7 linked regions of the Homo sapiens genome follow. Changing the gene in region 4 together with the main gene of any one other region gives a genetic interaction. Each region holds a gene or a part of one and is shown on either strand. Other genes may lie near its edges.

Evidence for each region.
Region 1: of ATG10 (region 4) and WDR3, changing one suppresses a phenotype caused by changing the other (phenotypic suppression), as found in Homo sapiens cells (one large-scale study listed by BioGRID).
Region 2: of ATG10 (region 4) and NRBF2, changing one enhances a phenotype caused by changing the other (phenotypic enhancement), as found in Homo sapiens cells (one large-scale study listed by BioGRID).
Region 3: of ATG10 (region 4) and KANSL3, changing one enhances a phenotype caused by changing the other (phenotypic enhancement), as found in Homo sapiens cells (one large-scale study listed by BioGRID).
Region 5: of ATG10 (region 4) and NPC1, changing one enhances a phenotype caused by changing the other (phenotypic enhancement), as found in Homo sapiens cells (one large-scale study listed by BioGRID).
Region 6: of ATG10 (region 4) and WDR12, changing one suppresses a phenotype caused by changing the other (phenotypic suppression), as found in Homo sapiens cells (one large-scale study listed by BioGRID).
Region 7: of ATG10 (region 4) and RPP14, changing one suppresses a phenotype caused by changing the other (phenotypic suppression), as found in Homo sapiens cells (one large-scale study listed by BioGRID).

Annotation. Positions count from the first base shown.
Region 1 is NC_000001.11:117,927,704-117,932,783, forward strand, and holds the start of WDR3 (WD repeat-containing protein 3), read left to right. Parts: upstream 1-2,035; 5' UTR 2,036-2,079; intron 2,080-5,080. UniProt on the Homo sapiens protein: Part of the small subunit (SSU) processome, first precursor of the small eukaryotic ribosomal subunit.
Region 2 is NC_000010.11:63,150,035-63,153,473, forward strand, and holds part of NRBF2 (nuclear receptor-binding factor 2), read left to right. Parts: intron 1-193; exon of another isoform or gene 194-322; intron 323-2,115; coding exon 2,116-2,156; intron 2,157-3,439. UniProt on the Homo sapiens protein: May modulate transcriptional activation by target nuclear receptors. Can act as transcriptional activator (in vitro). Involved in starvation-induced autophagy probably by its association with PI3K complex I (PI3KC3-C1).
Region 3 is NC_000002.12:96,627,653-96,631,993, reverse strand, and holds part of KANSL3 (KAT8 regulatory NSL complex subunit 3), read left to right. Parts: intron 1-450; exon of another isoform or gene 451-511; coding exon 512-682; intron 683-4,053; exon of another isoform or gene 4,054-4,072; intron 4,073-4,341. UniProt on the Homo sapiens protein: Non-catalytic component of the NSL histone acetyltransferase complex, a multiprotein complex that mediates histone H4 acetylation at 'Lys-5'- and 'Lys-8' (H4K5ac and H4K8ac) at transcription start sites and promotes transcription initiation.
Region 4 is NC_000005.10:81,978,240-81,982,580, reverse strand, and holds part of ATG10 (ubiquitin-like-conjugating enzyme ATG10), read right to left. Parts: intron 4,253-4,341; exon of another isoform or gene 3,732-4,252; intron 3,082-3,731; exon of another isoform or gene 2,903-3,081; intron 1,674-2,902; exon of another isoform or gene 1,164-1,673; intron 1-1,163. UniProt on the Homo sapiens protein: E2-like enzyme involved in autophagy. Acts as an E2-like enzyme that catalyzes the conjugation of ATG12 to ATG5. ATG12 conjugation to ATG5 is required for autophagy. Likely serves as an ATG5-recognition molecule. Not involved in ATG12 conjugation to ATG3.
Region 5 is NC_000018.10:23,555,196-23,559,536, reverse strand, and holds part of NPC1 (NPC intracellular cholesterol transporter 1 precursor), read left to right. Parts: intron 1-2,346; coding exon 2,347-2,420; intron 2,421-2,872; coding exon of another isoform or gene 2,873-2,923; coding exon 2,924-3,294; intron 3,295-4,341. UniProt on the Homo sapiens protein: Intracellular cholesterol transporter which acts in concert with NPC2 and plays an important role in the egress of cholesterol from the endosomal/lysosomal compartment.
Region 6 is NC_000002.12:202,876,613-202,880,909, reverse strand, and holds part of WDR12 (ribosome biogenesis protein WDR12), read left to right. Parts: coding exon 1-50; 3' UTR 51-4,297.
Region 7 is NC_000003.12:58,315,883-58,318,947, forward strand, and holds part of RPP14 (ribonuclease P protein subunit p14), read left to right. Parts: intron 1-632; coding exon 633-709; intron 710-1,032; coding exon 1,033-1,111; intron 1,112-1,557; coding exon 1,558-1,614; 3' UTR 1,615-1,731; coding exon of another isoform or gene 1,732-2,238; 3' UTR 2,239-3,065. Other genes in the region: HTD2 (hydroxyacyl-thioester dehydratase type 2, mitochondrial), read left to right, coding at 1,732-2,238. UniProt on the Homo sapiens protein: Component of ribonuclease P, a ribonucleoprotein complex that generates mature tRNA molecules by cleaving their 5'-ends.

The sequences.
Region 1 (5,080 bases), on a different chromosome or scaffold from region 4:
TGGAAGACTAACTGAAGTAGTCAAATATGTCAACAATAAATACAGTATAACAAGAACATTCCTAAGCTTGTCAATGGCTTGGGTCAAATTTAACATCATAATTCAAAAGCACCCAAAGAACATATCCTAACAGTAAATTAGTAGTACCCCTTCATATTAAATGAACTGCACTATGTTTTAATTGTAAATATTGATATATTAGGCATTTTGAAACTTAAATAAGGAAGTAGAGTTACATCCTTGAAACATTGTATAAGGAATTTTGTAAGATGCATTACCTTACCACTCACAGTTGCTCTGATACCAACTCTTATTAAAATCATTTTTTTCCATCTGTGGTTGTCCCATCCCATAATATTTAATAATATTAAGATAGTTTTTTAAGAAAAGGTAAAATCATGACTCATTCAAATATAAAACCAAACCCGTGTTCAAGATTTTATTTAACTCAAAATGGAACCAGGCAGAGAAGATAAAGAAAATCCCAGAATTAGACACCTTAGAGCAGGAATATTGAAATAAATGTGCAAAAGGAGGCAAAACTTCCACTGAATCTCTGAGAGAATTCGCATGTCTTGACAATAATTATTTAGCATTGATGTCACTTACCTAGTTTACGTAACTGAAAAATAGCTTTTTTAGAATTAGTTATTCCAAGGGGTGTTAAGATAGAATCTAAACTATGTAGTTTTCCATTGAAGCACACACTTCTCCCCATAATAATATAATGCACAGCACCTGTCAGGGATATTAACCATACATACCCACTCAAATGCTCCCTTTCCCACCAAGCTTATTAAAATAATAGTTTGTGGCCACAATTTCTTCCCTTCTCATTTATCCAATACACAGCAATCTTGTTTCAAAACTCCTATGCTGCTACAGCTGTCCACAGTCTCATCATACGCATTCTTTGCTATTGCAATTTTCTTGAATATGGAAGATTAGCTGAACATGCATTAAGCTCAGGAAACTCTAAAGAAAATCAGATAATGTAGACAAAAGTCTAATTTCTAGGCTGGCTGCAGATACCTTGTTCAAGAAGCGCCGGCAGGATCTTCTTTTGTACAGCTATGTTAGCTTTAATTTTGCACAGCTCTAGACATCAGAACTCATTTCTAAACACTTCTATGCAGCTCAAGAATAAAAGTAGCAGAAATGCAAGAGAGAAAAGCTAATTCCCACTTGGTGAAAGAGCACTTAAGTCTCAGTGAGCAAACAAGGAGGAGTCAGCCTTGGTCACTTCCCCCTCAAGCGGCCAGAGAGCGGAAACACAAAGCCAGGCCAGTGTCACTCCAGGGATTGCGGGAACCTAGACAACGCACCATCCTGGGCTCAGCGTCTACCCACCCCTCACCCGAGGTGCTCTCGGTTCCGTAGAATGTCCAGTCCACAGGAACGGCAACACGGACTTGTCTTTGGGACTACAACCAGCAAGAGCTCCCGCCTGCCCCATTTCACCTGCACCCTAGGGCGCCCGCCTCCTTGGCTACAGCACCACTGTTCCTAGTGCCCGCCGACTGCCCACCCTTTCACTTCTCGTAGAGACGGCGTCCCCGACAACGCCTCGGGAAAGAACCTAACCAACATGCGAGGAAGTGGCGCCAGGCTCGTTCTTCAAGAGAAGTGACAGAACTAACCCTCAGCCTGCAATCCTGACCAGGGCCGAGTCCCGAGCGCCTCGGACCGCGCCCCCGGCCCTCTCCGCCCCGCCTTCCCTCCCGGCCTCAGTCCCTCCTCTCACAGCACTCTGGTGGTCCCATCCGGGCGGCGGGCGGCACGGATCAGGCTCCTGGTAGAAGGCGGCCGAGCGACATCTCCGGCGACCCTCAGCAGGAGCGCGCCGAGTACGGCGAGTCAAAGTCCCAGGAGACTGGAGTGACCAGCTGCAAATGCTCTGGGCTGCGAAACACCGGCTTCCGCTCCTGGCCAGAGCTCACCAATCAGCGCCCGGCTTTCTCCGTCATTTCCTCCTAGAAGGCAAAGGGAACCTCTGGCGGAAGAGGCTTCCGGAACGGACCCGGAAGGGGCAGGTCTTGTGGGCGGGTCCAATCGGCTGGGAGCCTCGTGGAGGCTGAGGTGAGTCCTGGAGGTGCGTGGTTGGGGCGGAGAGCATTATCTGCGGCTCCGATTTTGCAGATTCTGGCTGAGGCGTTCGTGATGTCAGCAGCAGCCGAGACGGGCGTGTTAAAGGCCGGTTGCTAGGGCTGGGGGAACTCAGGTAACTACGGGCGTCCCCACAGCAGTACTTGGAAGCCCCTCAGCTACTCGGCGCGGTTGCGGGTGCTGAGCAGAGCTGCCTGACCGTGCGTGTGCACGGGCTGGCCTGAGGATGATATGACCGTGTGTTCGGTGTGTGGAACCCTCCGTCACCCTCCCCTGACCGAAGACTCGTTTAGGAATGTGTGGCAGGTCTGTTGCCACGGTCCAGGCCTTCAGTGCATCTTGGAAACATCGTTTTGGGGGCTGTAGGTTAGGAAGCGGAGATCATGGGGTCTCGGAAGAAGGTTTGGTCGTGAACTGTCAGAAAGGAGGCGAAAGCTGTGCACGTGGAACAAAGTGAACAGTGCAAGTTGTATGGGAGGTAGTTTAAATATCGAGGCGATGAAAAAAGGCTGCTAGAATTGGGCTTACTCGAAAGGAAGTGGGCCTCAGAAGATAATATTAGTTAAAAGAAGTAGAGGAGAACATGGATGTTATTCTAAGTAAAACGAATAATATGAAGAATACAAGGTCGCGGGACGAGGAAGGAAACTAGCCAGCCTGACAGGAAGGTTTATTCGAGAAATACGGGGGTTAGATAGGATGAGTTTTTGGAAACTGGCAAACGATTTAGCCTTTTCAAGGCTTTAGGATAGGGAAAGCTCATTTGAAAAGATTAGTCGGTAGTATTATGACGTTTAAATGAAAAGAGTGAAAAACATGGAGGCGGAGGTGCTAGGTGGAAAATCAGTGCAGTAATCCAGTGATAAAGAGCTGGAACTGAAAGTGCTGGAGAGAAAGGGATCCTGTTTCAGAGTAACAGTCAGGTGGAATTGACTAAAGAGAAAGAGGCAAAGAGAAGCAGTTTAGCATAGTGGTTAAAAGCAGAAATTTTGGAGTTAGACTGGCTGGATTGGGATCTGGCTTTGGCAATTAGCTGCTAAATGACTTTGAGTTAGCAATTTGCCATCTCTGGGTCTGAGTTCCTTGTCTGTAAAATAGAGATAGGAAGAGTGACTTCCCTTGTGGTGTTATTGTGGAGAATTTGTTTATTTATTTTTAGAGACAGAGTCTCACTGTCACCCAGGCTGGAGTGCAGTGGCGTGATCATAGCTCACTGCAACCTCGAACTTCTGGACTCAAGTGATCTTTCTGCCTCAGCCTCCCCGAGTGCGTCACCATGCCTGGTTAATTTTTTAAAAAATGTTTTGTAGAGATAGGTTCTTGCTGTGTTGCCTATGTTGGTCTGAAACTCTTGACTCCTAGGCCTTGGCCTCCCAAAGTGCTGGCATTACAGGCATGAGCCACCATACCAGGTCCTTATGGATAATTTTTTTATGCTCATATTTACAATGTGCTAGAGGCTTTTCTAAGTGCTTTGCATATGTTAGCTCGGTTTCATTAATTGCTGTATGTAATTAAACAATTGCATAATGTTATCAGTTACTATAGCGTAAGCACTCTCTAAATCTTGGCTGCTATAATAATATTTTTTTATTAATAATTCAAAGGTTATTAAATGGTTTTGAGCCTGAAGAGCTGGGAAAATTGTGTCTTAGTGTCAGAAGAAAAGAGAGGGGTACCAGAAGTAAGGTAGGCTTGGTTATAGACATGTTAAATGTGAAACTATAAGGTATTCAAGTGGAGATGTTCAGTAAATATTGGAAACTCTATAATTAGTATTCATGTAGGTGGAAAGGACTGGAAATAGACAGATGGGAGTCCCTGGACCTAGGCATGCTATATGAATTCTCCAAGGAAAACACTGTAGAAGGAGGTGGTAGATGGCCAAAGACAGACAAACATAAGGAACAACTACAGAGTCTGGAGGAATAAGAGGAATTGGGAAAGAATTAATCAAATGGCCTAGGCTAAGAGCATTATCACCATGTTAATATTATCTTTCCTTGATTTTAAATTGGCTTTATGTTGGTTCCTGTGAGAGAAGCAATGAGGCCAGTAAGTGATTATTACCAGAAAATATTATCAGAGAGTTGAGATTGAATTTTTTTTGTGTTAGACTAAAACAGCATTTGATAATTAGAAAGACCCTGTAGAGTTAAGCCAACCAACCAAAGAAACAAAAAACAATAGCAAAAAGAAACAGCTCCTCATAAAAGACTGTAACTTCTTTATTTTTGTGTGTTTTAAGTTGCATGGGTGTTTTTTGGGGATACTTTTTACTCTTCCATGTAAAGAACAGATGGGACTGATTTGTTATCTCCTTCATTCACCTCTTGTCCCTTTTATAAATAACCAGTGGATTATGGATTTTCAGTGAATTTAATAAAAGTGCAGAAATTATGGCATCTTTCCAAAAATAGTGTGCCAAGTTGCTCAACCATTTTCTATGCCAAGGGTAAGTGGCTGCTCTGATTTTGAAATGAAGGACAGACTTTCATGTACTAGTAGTTCTCAAAGTGTGGTCCAAGAACTGCAATAGCAGCATCACTTGGAAACTTGTTAGAAATGAAAAATTCTAGGCCCTACCTCAGACTTATGAAATCAGAAACAGGTGCTGGGAGAAGAGATGAGATGGTGTTTTCTAGCAATGTTTTCATAAGCCCTCCAGGTGATTTGGATGTATACTAGAGTTAGAGAACCACTGTACAAGAAGGTAAGTACCATGAGGTTAGGGATTTTGCCTTGTTAATAGTGTATTTCCAGTGTCTAGAATGGTGCCTGTCTAATTGGTAGGTTTTCAATAGATATTCATTGAAAAATATGTTCAGTCTCAGACTGCCAATCTCTGTGTAAAAGCTTTGATGCTGGTTTAATGGGCAGAAGTAAATCAGTTTAGCTGCATTGAGCCTATAATGTCAGATATGCATGAGGTGGGCATGACAACGTGACTAATTTGGAACTTGAGGAATGAGGG
Region 2 (3,439 bases), on a different chromosome or scaffold from region 4:
GGGTTCAAGCGATTCTCCTGCCTCAGCTTCCCTAGTAGCTGGGATTACAGGTGCCTGCCACCACGCCCAGCTAATTTTTGTATTTTTTTTTTTTTTTAGTAGAGACGGGGTTTCACCATGCTGGCCAGGCTGGTCTCGAACTCCCGACCTCAGGCGATCCACCAGCCTCAGCCTCCCAAAGTGCTAGGATTACAGGTGTGAGCCACCACACCCGGCCGTCTTCACAGATTTAAACATGAACAAAAGGAAAAGAAATAGTATGCAGCTGTACAGACATACTACAGGAAAAAAAGACAAGGGTTGTGGGAAGGATGTAATTATGGTAAGCATAGCTGGAGCAAAGACTGTATAACCAACTCTGTTTTTTCTTTCCTTTTTTTTTTTTAAATTCTTTTTAAATTGATACAGGGTCCCGCTATGTTACCCAGTCTAGTCTTGAACTCCTGGGCTCAGGCAGTCCTCCTGTTTGGCCTCCCAAAGTGCTAGCCACTGCGCCTGGCTCCAACTCTTCTTTTTCTTGGAAAGGGAGCATCTAATTCAGCAGTCCCAACCTTTTTGCTGCCAGGGACTGGTTTTGTGGAAGTCAATTTTCCATAGACCTGGGGTCAGGAAAATGGTTTTTGGATGATTCAAGCACATTACATTTATTGTACACTTTATATTTTACAATGTAATAATAGAAATAAATAATTATACAACTCAACATAATGTAGAATCAGTGGGAGCCCTGAGCTTGTTTTCCTGCAGCTAGACAGTCTCATCTAGGGGTGATGGGAGACAGCGACAGATCATCAGGTATTAGATTATCATAAGGAGAGTGCAACCTAGATCCCTTGCTTGTGCAGTTTGCAGTAGGGTTTGTGCTATGAGAAGCTAATGCCGCTGCTGATCTGATGGGAGGCAGAACTCAGGCGGTAATGCAAGCAATGGGGAGTGGCTGTAAATACAGATGAAACTTCACTGGCTTGCCTGCTGCTCACTTCCTGCTGTCTGTGTGGCCCAGTTCCTAACAAGACATAGACCAGTACCGGCCTGGGGGTTTGGGACCCCTGATATAATTGTATCTTAAAGACTGTGGTAGAACCTAGCAGGCAAGAACTCTTAAGTTATGACATCAAAGCATTAAATTATTTGGATTAAGACTGGACAGAAAGCAATGCCTCGTAGTATCTGCAAAAGGGCAAAAGAGGAACTTAATGTAGGTATGAGAGATGCCAAAAATGTTTATAACAAGCAAGATAAAAATGGAGATTCATTATGGACAATTCATTGATAATAGAGAACTTATTTATACCTAACCTTGTTCCCGAAAGGTTATAAAATGTCTTACAGATGAATGTACAATAAAATATCGAATGTAATTAAAGATACATAGATAAGGACATCCATAGAGAAAATGAGAAAGGACTAGTAGTGTAGTTCACAAAATGTACCATTAGTTCTTGCATATTTTTTTAAGAACTTGACTTAAGTTTTCTAGCAGTCATCCTAAAGAGGAAAGATAATAATTTTTACATTGGCTATTAAAATTCAAACAAATAGTCACCGAGGATCTAAGATCAGAGAGAAGTTTATTGAAGGTCTTCATAAATGACATTATACTGTCCTCAGTAACTTCCTCGCAGTAAATATGTCAACAAGTTCTTAGGGCTTTTAACCATAAGGCTGATGGTTTAACTCAGAGACAATTCATTAAAAGTGATTCTATAGGAGTCCAAAATGATAGATTCCAGGTATTCAGACGGATAAAAAGTCATTGATAATCTCATGATATTTTTGTGAGTATGATGAGTAATAGGGTTTGGATAGGTTCTTGTTTGATTTTTATCTTTCCTAAACCTATTTTTCTGATTAGACCATCTTCAGTTTCTGAATTATAAAATCTGTAGGAGTTTTAAATAACAAAACCTTCAAGATAGGGTAGGGAATATTTTCATTTTATTGCCACTGACATCCTTTTGGGGGAAGTTAAGAATTCTTTTAAAAAATCCCCAATTGTATCAGAGTTATCAGACCAGTTCTCTTTGTCATATGAAGATTATTAAAACTCTTCCTTTTACCTGTTAATTACAAAATGAAGACACATATTAACATGCCTATTTTTTCTCTTAACAGCATATCTTTCTGAAGCCATGAAGCTGACACAGTCAGAGCAGGTGAGACATATTCCCAATATTTGCGACAAGGGTTAGAAAGGTTTTCTTGTGGAGGCTTGAATTGTGTGTAAAGCAAAGCATTGTGTCCCTCTCAAAATGCTATAGTCAAAAATATATAAAATGGGCAAGGGAAGAGCACTTCACAACGGAAATTAAAACTAAATGAACTGCAGTCGATGCCCCAGACATGGAATGCAGAAACTTCTTTTTTTCTAGTGGTTACTCACAGATCTCAGATTGCCAGCCAGATGTACCTTTTAGAGAGCCCTCTTCGGACCATTCCTAATCATTAGCTCTTATTTGATCATTAGCTTACAGTCAGTAAACAGGCCTGGCCAAGAGGAAACTAGTTGGACCACCCTTTGCTTGTCAAAGATAATTTAAATCTGACCAGTCTCCCACTTGTCTTTGCTTGAATTCTTAAGCAGTTCAGGCACTTTTAAATTTGTTTCACCAATTGCTTTAAATTGTCTTCTGTGTTTGGGGAGGCCCTGCCAAGTGTTTCAAGATACATTTATTCATAAGACTGGGCATGGTGGCCCATGCCTGTAATCCCAGCACTTTGGGAGGCCAAGGCAGGGGGATCACTTGAGCCCAGGAGTTCGAGACCAGCCTTGGCAACACAGTGAGACCCCATCTCTACAAAAACTTAAAAAATTAGCTGGGCGTGGTGGCACATGCCTGTAGTTCTAGCTACTTGGGAGGTTGAGGTGAGAGGATCACTGAACACCTGAGTCCAAGGCTGCAGTGAGCTATGACTGCGCCATTGCACTTCAGCCTCAGCAACAGGGACCCTGTCTCTAAAATAAATATATATAAAATATCTTTTTAAAAACTTTTTGTTATAAAAGTATTAGTTAAAGAGATCATTTCTGTGAGGTATATCAGTGGCAGGGAAAGCCACTAGTTTCTCAAACTGAACCAAGGGAACTTTAAAGTTGTGTTCTATCCCTTTCACTGCCTTTGAAAGTATAGAATCTGCTCATGATACAGGCATGCATTGAGTTATCCAAACACGCGGTTGATAGGAAGACTTTCTTTTTAGCTGTTGGTAGAATTAATATGTCTACAGAGGAAAGATTTCTAATTTTGAGTACAAATGACATTACACATGGGGTCAGGCACATTGAGGAAAACATCCAATTTAGTGTATTGATTGGGAATAGGACTTCTGACTTTCTGAATGGTATTTTTGCAAACATAGTAAATTGTAAATTGTAAGTGTTGGGTTATTCACAAAGGATTTTGAATAGTGTATGTTGGACATTACTAAGATACTTAAA
Region 3 (4,341 bases), on a different chromosome or scaffold from region 4:
GCTCACTGCAGCCTTGACTTCCCGGGTTCCAGCAGTCCTCCCACCTTAGCCTCCTTAGTAGCTGGGATCACAGGTGTGTGCCACATGCCCAGCTAATTTTTGTATTTTTGGTAGAGACAGGGTTTCCTCATGTTGCCCAGGCTGGTCTTGAACTCCTGAGTTCAAGCAATCCACCTGCCTCGGCTTCCCAAAGTGGTGGTATTACAGGTGTGAGCCAGTGCACCTGGCCCATATTTATCTTAAAAAAAAAATAGATGTTTATCATTTTTTATATAGACTCATTGAAAAAATGACTTTGTGTTCTTCCAGTACATACCATCATGTCTGAGAGGGCAGAGATCTAGACAAGTGTGGGAAAGATGACTTTGGATCAAAATTTTCTTGTGAATATAATGTGCTTATGCGTAATTTAAAGCTGACTGTATTAAAGATACATTTTTTGTCAACCAGATGATTGTTAAATACCTGTGAAGTATGTGTGGCCCGGTCCTATTTCCTCACCTGTTTACAGTGAATCAGACGTCCCAATAGATGTGGAGACGGTCACATCAACGCCTATGCCACTCTATGACAATCAGAAGGCACGCAGCGTGATGAATGAGTGTGAACGGCATGTCATCTTTGCCAGGACTGATGCAGATGCCCCTCCTCCACCAGAGGACTGGGAGGAGCATGTCAACAGGTAGGCTGCTCATCAGGAGGATGATCACTGCCCTGTAATTATTTTGTATCATCTTCATTGAAATAACACTTATTAGGACCTTATTTCATTTGCAGCAACACAAGTCAGAGTGTTCTCCAAAGTCTCACATTATAACTCTCAGTTCACCATGCTGTGTGTGAGCTCCTTGAGAGTAGGGCTTACATCTCAGCCATCTTTGCATACTTCACACTAGGACGTTGTCTGGCACACAGTAGGCATATAATGTTTGTTGAATAAATAAGTGAATTAAATTTGATACATATGACTAGCTCTGTAGTAGCTTCTGTTGTATAAGTTATGATATAGGGGTTACCCAAACTGCAAAAAAATGAAATGTACATTTGTAAGATATTGTGTTTAAATGGTTTATAACTAGGATGATGGAAGTTGTGAAGTCACATGAAAAGCTAACAGATGTTTGAGTGGCTTTTAAAAATAGATTTGCAGGCTATGGAGGGCACACTGAAGCCTATTTTCACGAGTATACTGGCTAGTTTTGTTCCCAAGCTTTCTACTGCCCCCAGGGGACTCAGCACTCCTCTCCTGGTTATTTGTCCCTGTTCATTTGGTAAACATTTACCTAATTACATAACAGCTTTTTGGGGATATTATTTACATACCATACAATTCAGCTATTTAATATGTACAGTCATTGGTTTTTAGTATAGTCAGAGTTGTATATTCATCACCACTATCAATTTGATAAACATTTTCATCATCCTAAAAAGAAACCTCTTACCCATAAACAGTTACTTCCCGTTTCCTCCCAGCTTCTCTGGTCCCTAGGAAGCACTAATTGACTTTTGTCTTTATAGATTTGCCTATTCTGGACATTTCATATAAATGGAATCATGCAATATGTGGTCTTTTCCTACTGGCTTCTTTCACCCAGCATGATGTTTTCAAGGTTTATCCATGTGGTTGCGTGTATCAGCACTTCATGCTTTTTATTGCCAAATGACATTACATTGTATGGATAGCCCACATTTTATTTATTCATTAATCAGTTGATAGATATTTAGATTGTTTTCATTTTTTGGCAATTGTGAATAATGCTATTATGAACATTTGCATACAAGTTTTTGTGTGGATCTAAGTTTTTAATTCTCTTAGTTATATACCTGGGAGTGGACTTGTTGGGTCATATGATAACTCTGTATTTAACCTTTGAGGAATTGCCAGACTGTTTTCCAAAGTGGCTGTACCATTTTACATTCCTACCAGCAGTGTATGAGAGTTCTAGTTTCTCCATATCCTTGCCAACACTTACTGATTTTCTTCTTTTTTAAAAAAATTATAACCATTCTACTGCGTGTAAAGTGGCATCTCATTGTGGTTTCAACTTATATTTTGTTGATGGCTTTTTGTCTGTGTATCCATATATCTACTATATATATAAGGAAATGTTACTTCTTATATCAGGAGTTGGTAGGTGGTAACTTTCCATAATTTTGGAGAACCCTTATTTTATAATAGAGAGAAAGAGGGGTAGAAAGTTTGAGGTGATTGACATGACTTCTGAAGCTGGTTGGAAGTTGGGAATGAGATTGAACAGGTGTGCTTGTGTGATCAAAACAGCAGCTGTTGAGGGAGGAGCAGTTCTGCACCTTGGTTGAAAAAGCTTGTGAAGAAGTTGGTTGGGGTCTTGCATTGGAATTAATTTAGTGCCTTAAGAAGCTCTTTTCTCACGCCTGTAATCCCAGTACTTTGGGAGGTTGAGGCGGGTGGATCACCTGAGGTCGGGAGTTCAAGACCAGCCTGACCAACATGGAGAAACTCTGTCTCTGCTAAAAATACAAAATTAGCTGGGTGTGGTGGCGCATGCCTGTAATCCCAGCTACTCGGGAGGCTGAGGCAGGAGAATCACTTGAACCTGGGAGGCGGAGGTTGTGGTGAGCCGAGATCGTGCCATTGCACTCCAGTCTGGGCACCAAGAGTGAAACACCATCTCAAAAAAAGAAAAAAAAGCTCTTTTGAGCTTCAGATAAAGAAGAAAACTGCTACGAATGAAGATCAACTACTGGAATATTGCTAGAGTCAGTATATTCAGCAAAAGGATTTATCACTATTTTTACAGTTAATAATAAAAAATAACGACGATGGTAATAACAAAAAGGAGCTACCGTTTGTTGAGTGCTTTCTAGGTGCCAGACATTGTATCAATGTCTCTTCAAATGCATTGTCTCTTAATCCTCCCAATGACTCTTGGAGGTATATCCCCCCTTCATCTCTGCTCAACAGGATGAAGAAACTGAGCTCAGGGTGTTTAAGAAACCTTAATTAGGAAGTGATGGAGAAGGATTTTGTTCAAACCAAGCAGCCTGACTCCAGAACCCAGTGTTCTCAACTACCATACCCTCTGCCTTAATTAAGGGCAGTAAGAAGAGATTAAGACCAGTTAGTGGTGGCTGAACAAGGTGGCCTGGTATGGTTATGTATCCCTTTGTGGTATTTTCTACTACCTTGTCCTTTGCAATTTCAGAAAGTACATAGGAGAACTGTGTGATTTTTTTTTTTTTTGTCAGTTTATCCATGGTTATGATTAAGAGGTTTTTGTGGACAATTCATACTTATCAAAGTCATTAGAGACTTAATAATACTATAAATACCAGTTTGTTTCTTTTTTCTTTTTTTTGAGACAGGGTCTCACTCTGTCACCCAGACTGCAGTGCAGTGGCACGATCTCAGCTCACTACAAGCCTTGACCTCCAGGACTCAGGTGATTCTCCCGGGTGGGAACCTTAACCTCCCAAGTAGCTGGGACTACAGGAGTACGTCACCATTTCTTAATTTTTGTAGTTTTTGTAGAGATTGGGTTTCACCATGTTGCCTAGGCTGGTCTCAAACTCCTGGCTCAAGTGGTCTGCCCACCTTTGCCTCCCAAAGTGCTAGGATTATAGGTGTGAGCCACTGCACTTGGCTGAGTTTCTTAATTTATAAGGAGAGATATAACTGCAAAGCATAAGAGACACTGGGGTGGCCTGGCCAGAGTGTCTGTTCTCAGCAGGAAAGTCTGGAAAACCATTTTATTTCAGAAGTGAATAGATGAGTGGAGAGTCTACACAGGAGGCACAGCAGAATAGCTGGATGTACACATCTTTCCTCTAGGCAAGATGAGTCCACGGAATAGGCCAGTGTGCACCTTCTCCTGCCTGTCCTTTAGAGAAACACTGACAGATTCTTGTCTTTGGCTTATCTTTCTCCAGTCTCCTTGTGGACCACCACCCTTCTGTTATGACATTGCCACATTGCCACAGATTGATGTAATCCATTAAAGCTCAATTTATCAGATTATTTGTTTTCTTAGTGTCTGATGAGATTTTGGAGGCCTTCTCTCATTGGCAGCAGGCTTACACACCATCTCTTTTGGTAGGTAACTTTTGTACATAGCCGATTTTATTATTTATGATAACTTATTAGTTTCAGTTTCAGATACCACCATTTTATGACCCTGTCCCTGAATCTGTAGCCTGTTTGGAGCTTGCAGTTCCTTCTGCTCTGATTATAATCATCGTGTTGCCATTCTTTCCCTGACTTGATTGTTAAATTGCTGCTTCCTTTCTTCTTATATAAAGTCATGTAAAATTAGTTTGCCACATCAAGAGCTCCATGAACGGTGTAGGTCGGCTCCCTAGAAC
Region 4 (4,341 bases):
AAATAAATAAATAAATAAAAGGGGAAAAAAAAAAAACAATGAATCTCTCATTTCTAGTTGTAAGTAGGTTAGAAATGAGTCAGCGCTCCTCATGTCATAAAGTATAAGTTGTTTTGTTTTGTTTTGTTTTTTGGAGACGGAATCGCCCAGGCAGTGGCATGATATCGGTTCACTACAACCTCCACCTCCCGAGTTCAAGCGATTCTCCTGACTCAGCATCCCAAGTAGCTGGGACTACAGGCACACACCACCACACCAGGCTGAATTTTTGTATTTTAGTAGAGATGGGGTTTCACTGTGTTGCCCAGGCTGGTTGCGAACTCCTGAGCTCAGGCAATCCACCCACCACCCCACCTCGGCCTCCCAAAGTACTAGGATTATAGGCGTGAGCCACCACGCCTGGCATAAGTTGTTAATACATCCATTTTGCTTGAGTCTTACTCTGGCTGAAGAGTTGTGTTGTTTTGTTTTTGTTTTTGTTTTGTGACATTCAATCAAAACCTTTTTCTAACTGCTTTAGCAGAGACTAAAGATTGGAAAAATAGAATAATTTTCTGTTTTTCCAAGTGAGGGTAGTCTTTCCAAACTGTAAGTTAGCCCTTAGACTAGAAGGATAGAAGAAGCTTATTCTGCTGCTGTTCAAATATATCTTTCCAGAAAAGCAGCCTTAGTGAATTCTAACACTGTATATAATCATTGTTTAAATGATCCTTTTTAATTGAAAACAATTTTTTCACTACCACTCTCCATACTGTTTAATGTGATTTTTAATCTAATGTGTGTAGAACTAATTCTTTGTTATTGTTTTAGTTGGAGACGTTGATTTGATGAATCTATAAATCAATGTACATCAAAGTCATAATAGGACTAAAACACTATAAGAAATATAACTGAATTTCCCAGAACTTAAGATCATTTACAAAAATGTGATTACCACAGAACATGCGATGCATACATTTAAACATTAAAAATCATTTTTGACTAATAAAGTAGGCAATTTCCTGAATACTTGTCCCTCCTAGCAACAATTCCACATTATTTATAACTCTAAGTGTAGACTCTTTTTTAAAAAACATGCACTATCAGGTAGGAGAGTTAAACATCAACCCACTACTTTTATGGCAATTTGGCTTGAATTGATTCAGATTAATTTAATCACTTACCTAGCAAGGTCCTTAGGCAGTGGTCCTCAAATTTTAGACAGCAAAGAAGCACCCACAGTGCAAATTCAAATGTGGAATCCTAGGCCTTGGCCAGAAAAATAACCTGATTCTGAAGACCCAAAATAATTACTTTTAATTAGCACCTGGGATACTTTCAAAGGGAATCATGCTAAAAGATTAGCATGATCCCTAGACAAAAGATGAATCACTTTGACAGGGCTGGTAAAAGACCTGGATTTCAAGACATTTGGCAGCCTGGGTGGGACACAGAAGGCATGGCCCTGGGCAATCCAATAAAATAGCACAGAGACACATCAGAAGAGAAGTCGTATCAGTCCTAACAACAGATGACCAGCAGGCTCAATTCTCCCTCCTTGCCTTCCCATTGGAATACATATTCCAAATCAAAGTTTAAATGAGAGGCAACACTGTACCTGGCTGGAAATGAGGAATCTCTGTTGGTAGCTGAGGCTTGCTCTGACCTCTCTATCACTAGGTCAGGGGAAAGAGGGTCATTTCACTCTCTCCCATTCCCTTCAGAGAAACAGATCCTGAGTTGCCCCTCCCCTCCTGGTTTCTAGCTCCACTGGTAATTCTCTTTCAAGGCAGTTCTCTCCCAGTAGTGCAGTGTGCATGGCCAGATGTGGAAGGTAAAGCCCTGAGGTGCACTGAGTACTGTGCAGCGAGCGACAGGTAGCTGCAGGAACAGAATGAGCTCTCAGCATAGTACAGTCTCACCACTAACACCCCAAAAAACTAAAAAAAAAAAAACTATAAATTATTTCAAATCACACAAAAACACTCCCCTCATTATAGTTACAGGACCGAAAGATTCAACACTAGGAAAGGAAGACCTCTCCTAAGTATAGAAAATGATCTATCCTTCATAAATTTCGTTGTACCCATTCATCTGCTTTCCAAGCTAACATAAAGAGGAAGATTCCTCCAGCTTCCAAGTGTAGTGAGAGAGACGAAGGAACACTTGGTCACTCTGACCAGTCAACATGCCCCTCTTTTGTCAAGGTAAGTAAACCAAAAACATTAATAACAACACAAGACCTTTAAGAAGCTCTTGCATAAGAAAAGAGGGGAACTACCATAAACAGGAAGAGGGAAAGCTTGCTCCTGTAATGGACTTACACTAGGAATATGGAAATCAAACCGAGGAATTATCTACTCTATGTTCCCAATTTTAAAAAGAAAAAGAGAAAGGGAAAGACCTCTAAAAGCAAGAGATGAGGAAGGAAAAACAGCTGAGATGAAAAAGGAAACTGGATAAGAAAAAACTGGAAGGAAATTCAAACACGTAACAGTAGAGATAAAAATTCTACATTCAAGGCAACAGAGAGATGTATAGAAGCTGGAAAAAAATCACATTCGTGTTTCAGTGTATAAGCACATAAGATCCTCTCCAAACACACAAAAGAAAAAAGACCATGATGAAAATAATGCATATTGTTTGATGGAAGGACAAAGAACACAGGTCCAACCTACAAATAACTGGAATTTCTGAACTACAATCATAAGCAAATGTACAACTGAAAAACTGTTCTAAGATGGAAAAAAAAAAAGATTTAAAATATTTACCTATAAATTGAAAGAATTCACCATGTTTCTAAAAAAAACAAAGCTGCTGGAAAGAAACTTATGCCTAAACATAGCCTACAGGAATATCTTAATTTAAAGACTAGAAAGAAAAAAAGATGCAGGCAAAAAAAAAAAAAAAAAGGTTTACCTACAATTAGCAAAAATCAGGGTAGCCTCTGCCATCTTCACCCACTGCAACAAATGCCAGATGATAGAGCAATGTCTGCAATGTCTGGGGATTTGATTTACACTTCGTATCTTAGCATCTATAACAGATAGGCAAACAGTAAACATTTTTTTTTTGAGACGGAGTGTCGCTCTGTTGCCCAGGCTGGAGTGCAGCGGTGCTATCTCGGCTCACTGCAAGCTCCGCCTCCCGAGTTCACGCCATTCTCCTGCCTCAGCCTCCCGAGTAGCTAGGACTACAGGGGCCCGCCACCACGCCCAGCTAATTTTTTGTATTTTTTAGTAGAGACAGGGTTTCACCGTGTTAGCCAGGATGGTCTCGATCTCCTGACCTCGTGATCCGTCCATCTCGGCCTCTGGAAGTGCTGGGATTACAGGTGTGAGCCACCGTGCCCAGCCAGTAAACATTTTTTTTTAAGTTGTAAATGAATAAAAGAAAAATTCAGACCAGGCACCGTGGCTCACGCCTGTAATCCCAGCACTTTGGGAAGCTGAGACAGGAGAATCACCTGAGGTCAGGAGTTCAAGACCAGCCTGGCAAACATGGCAAAATCCCTTCTCTACTAAAAATACAAAAATTAGCCAGGTGCAGTGATGTGCACCTGTAGTCCCAGCTACTCCAGAGGCTGAGGCAGGAGAATCACTTAAACCCAGGAGGCGAAAGTTGCAGTGAGCTAAGATTGTGCCACTGCACTCCAGCCTGGGCGACAAAGCGAGACTCCATCTTAAAAAAAAAAAGAAAAATTCAAAAATTTGAATGGACTTATTCTATACACCTCTTCTCATTTATAGTACCTTTCTTCAACTTTCAGGCCTGTTCACTTCTTGGACCTTTCTTACACAAACTGATGTACACTTTGCAAGGCCGAGGTAGGAGGATCACTTGAGGCTAGGAATTCAAGGTTGCAGTGAGCTATGACCGTGACACTGCCCTTTAGCCTGGGAGACAGCAAGATCCTGTCTCTAAAACAAACAAACAACAACAAAAAAAACCACAGATCTATATGACATCCAATCTTTCTGATACCAGTATCATTACTTTTATCAAAAGATAATTTTTTAATAAAACTCTGCAAGCACATAAGAAAAAATGTTCCACCACTGATGACAATTTGAGCTGATCCACAGCTCAAACTCTCTTGCTGCCTTTGAACAGTGGGTAGTAGGACTAGTACAACAAACTCTAGTCAGCACATATGCCAAGTATCCAGAATTAGGAAATAAGGAGATAATGGGGTATCCTTGGCCAAAAGTATCCAAAAAATAAGAAGAGACAGAAAGGAGCAGTGGCTCATGCCTGTAATCCCAGCATTTTGGGAGGCCAAGGTGGATGGATCACCTGAGGTCAGGAGTTTGAGACCAGCCTGACCAACATGGTGAAACCCCATCTCTACTAAAAATACTA
Region 5 (4,341 bases), on a different chromosome or scaffold from region 4:
GTGCGAGACTGTGTCTCACCAAAAAAAAAAAAAAAAAAAAAAAAGTCAGAGTCAAATGAGCGAAATCAGATTCAAATCTAATTAAATGGAGTACTATAGTCCTTTTAGATATTTGCATCTTAATTTAGGACAGTACTTTTTTTACTTTTTATTTTGAAATAATTGTAGACTTAACCAAAAAGTTGCAAAATGGTAGAATTTATGTGTATCCTTAACCCAGTTTCCCCGATGATACAACTTACATAACTCATAGTACATCTAGAACTAGAAATACCATTTGACCCAGCCATCCCATTACTGGGTATATACCCAAAGGATTATAAATCATGCTGCTATAAAGACACATGCACACGTATGTTTATAGCGGCACTATTCACAATAGCAAAGACTTGGAACCAACCTAAATGTCCAACAACGATAGACTGGATTAAGAAAATGTGGCACATACACACCATGGAATACTCTGCAGCCATAAAAAATGATGAGTTCATGTCCTTTGTAGGGACTTGGATGAAACTGGAAACCATCATTCTCAGCAAAATATCGCAAGGACAAAAAACCAAACACCGCATGTTCTCACTCATAGGTGGGAATTGAACAATGAGAACACATGGACACAGGAAGGGGAACGTCACACACCGGGGACTGTTGTGGGGTGGGGGCCTGGGGGAGGGATAGCATTAGGAGATATACCTAATGCTAAATGACGAGTTAATGGGTACAACACATCAACATGGCACACGTACACATACGTAACAAACCTGCACGTTGTGCACATGCACCCTAAAACTTAAAGTATAATAATAATTAAAAAAAAAACTCATAGTACAATGATCAAAACCACGACCATGCCATTATTATTACATTATTATTAGCTAAACCAGAGATCTTAATCAGATTTCACCAGCTTTTTCTCTAATGCCCTTCCCTGTTTCAAGGTCCCATATTACATTTTTGTGTTTTATGAGTCCCCTCTAATCTGTGACAGAAAGTTCCTCAGTCTTTCCTTTTCTGGCCTTAACACTCTTGATGATACTGGTCAGGTATTTTGTAGCATGTCCTTCCATTTGGCTTTATCTGGTATTTTCTCATGATGAGATTGAAATAAGGTGTTTTGACAAGTACATCACAGAAGTCATGTTATGTCTTTCTCGGTGCATCATGTCAGGGATCCCTGATGTTGATGCGTCTCTTTCCTGGTGATGTTAACCTTGATCACTTGCTCAAGGTGATGTCTGCTGGCTATCTCCACTGTGAAGTTACTGCTTTTCCCTTCGTAATTGATAAATATCTTGGGGGAAGATGCTTTGAGACTATACTAATATTTTGTTCCTCCTGAAACTCAACCACTGATTTTAGCATTCATTGTTGGGTCTTGTCTGCAACAGTTATAACTAAGGTGTTTGCCTGATAGTGATTTTTTTCTCTTTCCCTCTCTTCCTCTGCATTTACTAACTGGACTTCTGTACAGAAAGCTATCCCTTCTCCCTCATTTATTTACTCAGTTATTTACATCATGGACTTTTAATTCTGTGGGTTGTATCCAACACTGTCATTTATCTTGTTACTCAAAGTTTTCCACTTTGGGCCATTGGGAGTGCCTTCTGGCTGGCTTCTGTGTTCTTACATACACCTCCCATCCCCAGCTTTATCTTACATATTCCCTGTCCCTGCCCTGCAAGGAGCTCTGGTTCCTTTTATTGGAGAATGGTATGTAGAAACGAAGATCTGGGCACTAGGTATGCTCATTGCTGCTGGAAAGAGTAGCATGTTTTTGTTTGTTTGTTTGTTTTTTTGAGATGGAGTCTTGCTCTGTCACCAGGCTGGAATGCAGTGGCGCGATCTCAGCTCACTGCAACCACCGCCTCCCTGGTTCAAGCAGTTCTCCTGCCTCAGCCTCCCAAGGCACGTGCCACCACACCCAGCTAACCTTTTTGTATTTTTAGTAGAGACAGGGTTTCACCATGTTGGCCAGGTTGGTCTCGATCTCTTGACCTCGTGATCCCGCCCACCTTGGCCTCCCAAAGTGCTGGGTTTACAGGCGTGAGCCACCGCGCCTAGCCCAGTAGTGTGTTTTTAAAGGACCTAAAAGTTTTAAATAAAATGAGGGCCACAAGGTGAAATTATCCTTTATTAATTGTTCTCTTAACATCTTCTTAAATTTTCTCCTGAGACTGGTGAGCAGAGGGACCCAGAGCAAGGGGACTTAGGGGAAAGAAGGCAGTAATTAGGGAGGAGGAGGCCAGGAGGAGGAAGAAAGCATTTCATGGGATTACAGGAATGTCCCAAAAACAACCTCACTGTGATGAAGTCCACTAATGCTATTTCTTCACTTCTGTTTTTCAGAAAACGGTATTTTGTCTCCGAGTACACTCCCATCGATAGCAATATAGCTTTTTCTGTTAATGCAAGTGACAAAGGTAGGCATATTTGTCCATGAATAAAAGGGTTCAGATGATGCTGTCTGTCATGAGAGCATTCGTTTCCTCAGTGGGGTTGCAGCAGTGGGTGAGGTGGTGTGCCAGTGCCGAGGACACGGCTGCGACCAAGGCAGACATGGTCCTTGCCTTTGTGGCCCTACCATCTAGTCAGGGTGGCACAGCAGAACCAAGTAATTAATCATAGCTGGGGAGGCGCGAAAGCAGCAGGACAAGAGTGGGAATAGCAGGGCAGGGTTGAACCTCACCCTTCAGAGGCTCCTGTGTCGGCATCTCCTCTGTGGGGTGGGAATAGCGCTCATTGAGGGCAGCCAACAAAGGTGGCTTTGCTGAGCAGATAGGTAGCTGAGGGCAGGGGTCTCATATGTGTCCCCAGGTGGGCTTGATTCCTGCCATGAGATAGCAACTAATGCTTTCCCTGTTCCGACTTTCAGGAACGGCTTGGCTCTTAACCTCCACCTTCCCTTCCTCTCCCGTTCTTCCAGGAGAGGCGTCCTGCTGTGACCCTGTCAGCGCAGCATTTGAGGGCTGCTTGAGGCGGCTGTTCACACGCTGGGGGTCTTTCTGCGTCCGAAACCCTGGCTGTGTCATTTTCTTCTCGCTGGTCTTCATTACTGCGTGTTCGTCAGGCCTGGTGTTTGTCCGGGTCACAACCAATCCAGTTGACCTCTGGTCAGCCCCCAGCAGCCAGGCTCGCCTGGAAAAAGAGTACTTTGACCAGCACTTTGGGCCTTTCTTCCGGACGGAGCAGCTCATCATCCGGGCCCCTCTCACTGACAAACACATTTACCAGCCATACCCTTCGGGAGCTGATGTACCCTTTGGACCTCCGCTTGACATACAGATACTGCACCAGGTAACCTGCTGTTTGAAGAAATAAGTCACTCTAGATGACCTTGTGGTTTGCTGGCTTTTACATGTTGACTACTGCTAGATGGGGATTTGGGGCTGAATGTCATGGTATATCTTGAAAATCTTAGCGTATAATGGCAAAGCTGCCTTTAAGTTAGGTTTCAAGAAAGTGAATGATGTTGAACTTAATGGAATATTTATTGTTGCTCACTTTTGTATTTACTTCAGATAGTAGACCTTGCCTTTTTCTTGAAATTGAGATGAGCAGAGAAAGAAGACTTCAGTGGCGTTTCTCTATTGAGGCAGGATATATTTATTAGGAAGTCACCTTAGGAATTTGTGAAATGTTTTCTGTTGGTAACTGAAAGTAATATGCAAGGACCCAGAGGCATGAAGCCCTTACTGCTGTCCTGGGGGCTGAGGAAGGAGCTGCCAGATTACCATCCCTGATCCAACCTGTAGGAATGAACTTATCACTCACTGCCTGAACATGGGCACCCAGCCTGTTTTTGGTGAGAGGCGCATTTGGGGCAAGATCCATCCCATTGCTCCTAGAAAGGCATGTAAACCTTCCCATTGTCCCTGTCACACTTGCCTTGGAGAACTGTACCTGTGCATAAACTGTACCGGCTTCTTTTTTAATGAATGTATAATCACATGGTTTTTCCTTTAAACATTGCTCATGTCTACAAGAAAGTCTGCAATCTTGAAAAGCATTAAAATGGTCCCAAGACTTGAATCTTTTCTCTACCCAGTGACTGTCTGTTGCTTTTTCCAGCTTGTTGCTGAAGGTGAACAGCATAGTCATTTACCTCCAAGATCATCTTCTCTGTTAGGAAATAAGGGGACATATATAAATGGCTGTAGTGCAGAGCAAGGCAGGAGGTTATGTGTTACTATTGAGAGGAGGGTCAGGGAGACCAGGAGTCCCCCTCCACTCTCCCCTCTGGCCTGCTGGCCACCACTGGAGAACGGTGGAGGGGAGATGGTTGTGTGTCCTATGTTGATAGCTGTTCTGGTCATGGTGTTCCCCCTACCCCTCGCCGCCTCT
Region 6 (4,297 bases), on a different chromosome or scaffold from region 4:
AATTGTATTCCTACAGATATTCACCTACCACTTCCCATGTTGGGGCATGAAAGTGAACAATAATTTGACTATAGAGATTATTTCTGTAAATGAAATTGGTAGAGAACCATGAAATTACATAGATGCAGATGCAGAAAGCAGCCTTTTGAAGTTTATATAATGTTTTCACCCTTCATAACAGCTAACGTATCACTTTTTCTTATTTTGTATTTATAATAAGATAGGTTGTGTTTATAAAATACAAACTGTGGCATACATTCTCTATACAAACTTGAAATTAAACTGAGTTTTACATTTCTCTTTAAAGGTATTGGTTTGAATTCAGATTTGCTTTTTTATTTTTATTTGTTTTTTTTTTTTTTGAGATGGAGTCTTGCTCTGTTGCCTAGGCTGGAGTGCAGTGGCGCAATCTCAACTCACTGCAACCTCCGCTTCCTAGGTTCAATCGATTCTCCTGTCTCAACCTCCCAAGTAGCTGGGATTACAGGCACACATCACGATGTCCTGCTAATTTTTGTATTTTTAGTAGAGACGGGGTTTTGCCATGTTGGCCAGGCTGGTCTTGAACTCCTGACCTCAGGTGATCTGCCCACCTCAGCCTCCCAAAGTGAGCCACTGTGCCTGGCCGAATTAAGATTTGTTTTTGAAATGCTGTAAAAGGTTATATTGGAAATCCAGTAATTGATTGTTGAGATTTTTATTTCTGTTAGAGACTTAGATTTTTTTAAGTTAGCTATTTTAAAAAAGCATTCAAAAAGATTAATGAAAATTGTAATAGAGAAAAAGTTAGAAATTCAGTTCCTTTTGGCAGAATAAATGTTCAAGAAAATTAGGCTGTGAGGGTACTCAGAACATTAAAAAAAATGTAGGCTGGGCATGGTGGCTCACACCTGTAATCCCAGCACATTGGGAGGCCGAGGCAGGTGGATCACCTGAGGTCAGGAGTTTGAGACCACCCTGGCCAACATGTCAAAACCCTGTCTCTGCTAAAACTACAAAAATTAGCTGGGCATGGTGGCGACCGCCTGTAATCCCAACTACTTGGGAGGCTAAGGCAGGAGAATTGCTTGAACCCGGGAGGCAGGGGTTGTAGTGAGCTGAGATTGTGCCACTGCACTCCAGCCTGGGTGACAGTGCAAGACTCTGTCTCAACAACAACGATAACAAAATATTGATTCGGCAGGGCACGGTGGCTCATGCTTGTAATCCCAGCATTTTGGGTGGCCAAGGCAGGCGGCTCACCTGAGGTCAGGGGTTCGAGACCAGCCTGACCAACATGGTGAAACTTTGTCTCTACTAAAAAAAAAAAAATCCAAAACAAATTAGCCGGGTGTGGTGGCACACTCCTGTGGTCCCAAGTACTTGGGAGGCTGAGGCAGGAGAATTGGTTGAACCCAGGAGGTGGAGGTTGCAGTGAGCTGAGATCATACCACTGTGCTCCAGCCTGGGCAGCAGAGCCAGACTCTATCTCAAAATAAAGACAAGTAGATTGCCAATTTTTGAAGAATTCATCAAGATATTTTAAGGAAGGCACTTTATATTAAATATATGTCAGATCCTTTAGAAATTGCATACAGTTGGTTGGGCACGGTGGCTCACGCCTGTAATCCCAGCACTTTGGGAGGCTGAGGCGGGCGGATTGCCTGAGCTCAGGAGTTCGAAACCAGCCTGGGCAACACAGTGAAACCTCGTCTCTAATAAAATACAAAAAATTAGCTGGGCGTGGCAGCATGTGCCTGTAGTCCCAGCTACTCCGGAGGCTGAGGCAGGCAAATTGCTTGAACCCGAGAGGCAGAGGTTGCAGTGAGCTGAGATTGTGCCACTGCATTTCAGCCTGGGCAACAGAGCAAGACTCTGTCTCAAAAAAAAATAAAAAATTGCATTGCATACAGTTTTCACTGTAACCCTAATCTTTCCTCATGTGTAGATTAGAATAAATTTTTTAGACAAAACCTTTCATCAGTATTAAACATTCTACAGATTTTATGATATCATTAGCATTTATCTTTATGCATGTGTTATATAAAAATATTTAAAGTAAATGTATTTTTTAAATGTTATTTCCATTATTAATGGATTGATACTCCTTAAGTAGAGCATTCACAACCTTTTAGTAATATTTGGGAAATATGTTTGGTCTCATTATTAGATGGTATTACATCTCAAATGATGTTCCTGTTGCAGAAGTCTGCGAAACAATATCTAAACTTGGCTGCAGTTGAGAGCTAAACAGTGTATTGAACCAGTTAGGAGTTTAGTTCTCTGTAGAAAACCAGAGGCAGTCCAGGGCTGATGTAGGTTTTGTTCCACATTCTTTAGGATCCTAGGCTCCCTCCATCCCTGGTATGTGGTCCTCATTTTCATATAGACCAAGAGCTAGAGCTCCAGTTACCATTTCTTAAAGTATATTTTAATGCCAAATAGTGAATAAAGGTGGCCAGAAAATTCATGCACAGAATCCTTCTTTTTCTCATTTTGTGCTGATTGGTATAAATTTTATTGTATTTGTAGTCTCTGGAAATCTTCTAACTTTGAGAGGACAAAGATGAATTCCTAGTCCTGTTTTGGATGGTCTTCAAATGATCCTTAAGGGCAGTTATTTAAAATGTCTTTCTTAACTCACCCAACCTAGGCTGACCGAATGTAGTCTGTATAAACTAGATGGTTAAAGATAAAGAAGCCTATATATCAGATGCATAGACAAAGAATAAAATGGCATCCAGAACTGGTCCCCACCTATTCCCAATCCTGGTTCCACAGCAGAATACATTCATAGTTCAGGCATTCTTCCTTGAGATAGATATAATGTAAGTGACCAAGTCTCTTGGACAAGTATTGTCTCTGATCAATCCCTGCCAAACTCCTTTCCTTGGTTAACTCAAGTGGTTAGATCTTACTCCCTGAACAGAAGGAATATGAGAGGTCAATACATGCCTAGACTATTCAGTCCTCTGATATTGCTCCACACCCTTTCCCTCAAAAGCCATGAGACCTTTCAATGGTCCCAGTTCCTCTACCAGAACACCAGAGATGCCTGCTTTACATGGACTTATATATTCCCAAGAATCACTTGGATAAATGAGTGGTGCTGCTTTCCCGTGGTTGGGGAAAAGCTAGGAACCTGACAATGCAGTGCTCAGAACCTGCTGACCGGTACTAGTTATGCTGTCTTGCCATAGTAGTGCAGTTCTTTAAAATGTTGATACTTGCTCTCTTATCAAAGGTTGGTTTTTTTGTTTTTTTGTCAAGACAGGGTCTCACTATGTCACCCATACTGGAGTACAATGGTGTAATCTTGGCTTACTGCAACCTCCACCTTCTGGGCTCAAGCTGGCCTCTCACCTCAGCCTTCCAAGTAGCTGGGACCACACCCAGTCAATTTTTTATTTTTTATTTTTTAATTTATTTTTATTATTACTTTTTTTGTAGAGAGAGGGTTTCGCCATGTAGCCCATGCTGGTCTTGAACTCCTGGGCTCAAGCTGTCTGCCCACCTGGACCTCCCAAAGTGCTGAGATTACAGGCATGAGCCACCGCACCCAGCCCAAATAAAGTTTTAAGAAATTACTTGGCCAGGCATAGTGGGGCCTTTGTAGAAAAACATAGCTTTTCTATGAGAAGATGATCAATATTTTCTTTTCCTTTGAATTTGGAATTACCATTTTGGAACTGTTGTCAACAATGCATAATAATATATCAGAATGCTTCCTAGTATATTATTGGAGAAAGAACAAACAAAAGTTTAAATTGATATAAAATGCATATAATGGAACAAGCAACCCTGCAAAAAAAAAAATATATATATATATATACCATCTGGGAATTTCTGATAATAACATTGAAATCTGTTCACACAGTCTAAAATTCTTTTGATGTATCGTAGTTTTGAAAAAAAGGTAACAGTTTACTATATATAACAAATATAAGGAAAATATTAAATTTTTTGAAAGATACTAGTTTTTATTTTTGTTCATTTTTTAGAGACAGGGTCTCACTATGTTGCCCAAGCTAGAGTGCAGCGGCCCGATTATAGCTCACTGCAGCCTCTAACTCCCGGACTCAAGGGATCCTCCCACCTCATCCTCCTAACTAGGACCACAGGCGCATGTCACCACATCTGGCTGATTTTAAAATTTTTTTGTGGAGACAGTCTTGCTGTGTTGCCCAGGCTGGTTATGAACTCTTGGCCTCAGGCAGTCCTCATGCCTCAGCCTCCCTAAGTGCTCGGATTATAGGCATGCCACTGTGCCTGGCCAAAAATACAGATTTTTTAATAGATATTACTATGGCTCCTATTC
Region 7 (3,065 bases), on a different chromosome or scaffold from region 4:
TCAGGCTGGTCTCAAACTCCCAACCTCAGGTGATCCGCCCTCCTTGGCCTCCCAAAGTGCCGGGATTACAGGCGTGAGCCACTGTGCCCGGCCAATCCCTGTACATTTCTTTGTGATCTCTTGTGAGTCTATAATTTTTTTAAATACAAAATTTTAAAAAAAAATATCCCTGTGTGTACCTGTGTGTCAGGTAGAAAACCTCGTTCCTGGGGTTTATATAGCTGCAAACAAACAGACATGGCCTCTGCCACATGGACTAATGTCTTGGTTCTTGTAGTAGGAAAACATGTTGGACAATTAGTGACAAGAATAAAGGGAATTATGAAAGAGAAAGTATGGTGTCCTGTACAAGAAAGAACATAGCAAGCTGACTTTGTCTCATCTTGAAGATCAGTCAAGGAACAATTTAAATGAAGGCTCAAAGGATGAGAGACATCAGCCATATGAAGAGGTGTAGGCAGAACATTCTAGGCAGGGGGAGCTGTAAGTAGGCAACTAAAGTGCCAGCACCATTAAATAAAATACTGCTTATGTGGAGGAGAAAAGCTCAAAACTCATTTGTTGTCAAAAGTTGACAAGCATTCAAGAATAATGGTGAGAATAGCCTGCTAATAGCATTATTCCATATGCAGGTTGATGCCGCCTTACCTTTGGACATCCTAACCTATGAAGAGAAGACCTTGTCAGCCATCTTGAGAATATGTAGCAGGTATGACAGAGAGTGGGAAATTTCTAGTATAACAGGGCAGAGAGACCGATGGAGCAAAAATGCTCTCTTCTGAGAATGAGAATAAATTTTTTGTTGTGAACTCTGAGCAGCTTTTGGGAATTTAAACTGGGATGAATATGAACATTCATCCACCAGAAACTTGTACTCTAGAGAGGGCAAAACTTACGATTTGGTTACAGCTGTAGTTTTCCCATTGATGGTTATAGTTGCAAAGTCAGAAGTGAATATTTTAGAAACCTTAGTTGAAGTTCATTTTGTTCTCTGTCTATGACACACTATGTATTTTCTTGATCTTTCTGCAGTGGTCTTGTCAAATTGTGGAGCTCTTTGACCCTGTTAGGATCCTATAAAGGCAAAAAATGTGCTTTCCGGGTGATTCAGGTAAAGACTATTCCCTCACATATTCCAAACAAGACTGAGTGATGGGTCAACTGCTTCTTAATATACACAACTCATTTTTGTGCTTGCATAAATGTAATATGGTTAAAATGATCTAAGTAGGGGAAAATAAAGGACTTGATTGTTTCCAAAAATGTGAGACAGAGCACTTAGATTTTAAAATCTATGGGAGATGTTTTGGGATAAAACTTGCAACCCTGTGGTTAAGGCTTACTTTTTTTATTTAACACTTAATGCCTTGTGTGTTATATATTGGTACGCTCTTTTTGAGATGTGACCACTTGTTATCGAAGGCTTCCTCTCAGGATGCTCTGTAAAATGCTCCTGCATCAGCTTTGTTTATCCTGTAAAACTGGGCATGTTTCCCCATTGCCCTGTGCTTCAGTGTGGTTTCTCCCAATGCCTTAACCTTTTTCTTTCTCTTCTAGGTTTCTCCATTTCTTCTTGCATTATCTGGTAATAGTAGGGAACTAGTATTGGATTGAATGAATAGTCTTCCATTTTGGAAACGTTCATCCACTCTCATATTTATTTTTTGGTGCCTGCATGTTTGAAGACTGAAGCAGGCTAAAAGCTCTTGATGAAATTTGAGGGTGCTGAAGATGTTCCCACTAATTTCCAGCCATCACCTTTGGTGGGGTGGGCTTCGGAGGACAGTCTGTCTGAACCTGCCAGTGCTGACCCTGCAGCACTTTCAGCATATGCACATCAAAGTTGGAGACCGCGCTGAACTTAGGAGGGCCTTCACACAGACTGATGTGGCTACCTTCTCAGAATTAACAGGGGATGTCAATCCTTTGCATTTGAATGAAGACTTTGCAAAACACACCAAGTTTGGAAATACAATTGTACATGGAGTTTTGATCAACGGACTTATCTCAGCTCTCCTAGGAACTAAAATGCCAGGGCCAGGCTGTGTATTTCTTTCCCAGGAAATTAGCTTTCCAGCCCCTTTATATATTGGAGAAGTTGTTTTAGCTTCTGCAGAAGTGAAAAAGCTGAAGCGGTTCATTGCTATTATTGCAGTGTCATGTTCTGTAATAGAAAGTAAAAAGACTGTTATGGAAGGCTGGGTTAAAGTTATGGTTCCAGAAGCTTCCAAATCCTGAAATAGATGTTTTAAAGATGCAACCTCAAACACCAATGCTGTTGTTAAAGAGCCTATGGGGAATTGCTGCTCTTTACCAAAGAATGGTTGATAGGCCCAGAAGCCCATCTTAGTTAGGGGAAGGGAGCAGGAAGAGGGTTGTTCAAATGCCCACTTTCCAGTTTGGCCTTATGCTTCATGCAGACTTGAGTGTATGCAGGATTTCATTATCTGCCTGGGTTTTTTGTTTGTTTTTTGTTTTTTAATTCAAGAAGTAGGCTGGGCCCGGTGGCTCATGCCTGTAATCCTGGCACTTTGGGAGGCTGCGGCAGGCGGATCACTTGAGGTCAGGAGTCCAAGACCAGCCTGGCCAACATGGTGAAACCCCATCTCTACCAAAAAAAAAAAAAAAAAAAAAGTGCAACTAGCTGTGCTTGGTGACTTGGCCCTGTAGTCCCAGTTGCTTGGGAGGCTGAGGTGGGAGAATTGCTTGGGCCTGAGAGCTGGAGGTTATGGTGAGAAACTGAGATTGCACCACTGCACTGTAGCCTGAGTGACAGAGCGAGACCCTGTCTCAAGAAAGAAGTATTGGGAAGGTTATTTAAAGACTCTACTTTTAAATCAGGCGTGGCAGCTCACGCCTGTAATCCCAGCATTTTGGGAGGCTGAGGCAGGCGAATCACTTGAGGTCAGGAGTTCAAGACCAGCCTGGCCAACATGTGAAACCCCATCTCTACTAAAAATACAAAAACTAACCGGGCATGGTGGCGGGCACCTGTAATCCCAGCTACTTGGGAGGCTGAGGCAGGAGAATCTCTTGAACCTGGGAGGTTGCAGTGAGCTGAAATC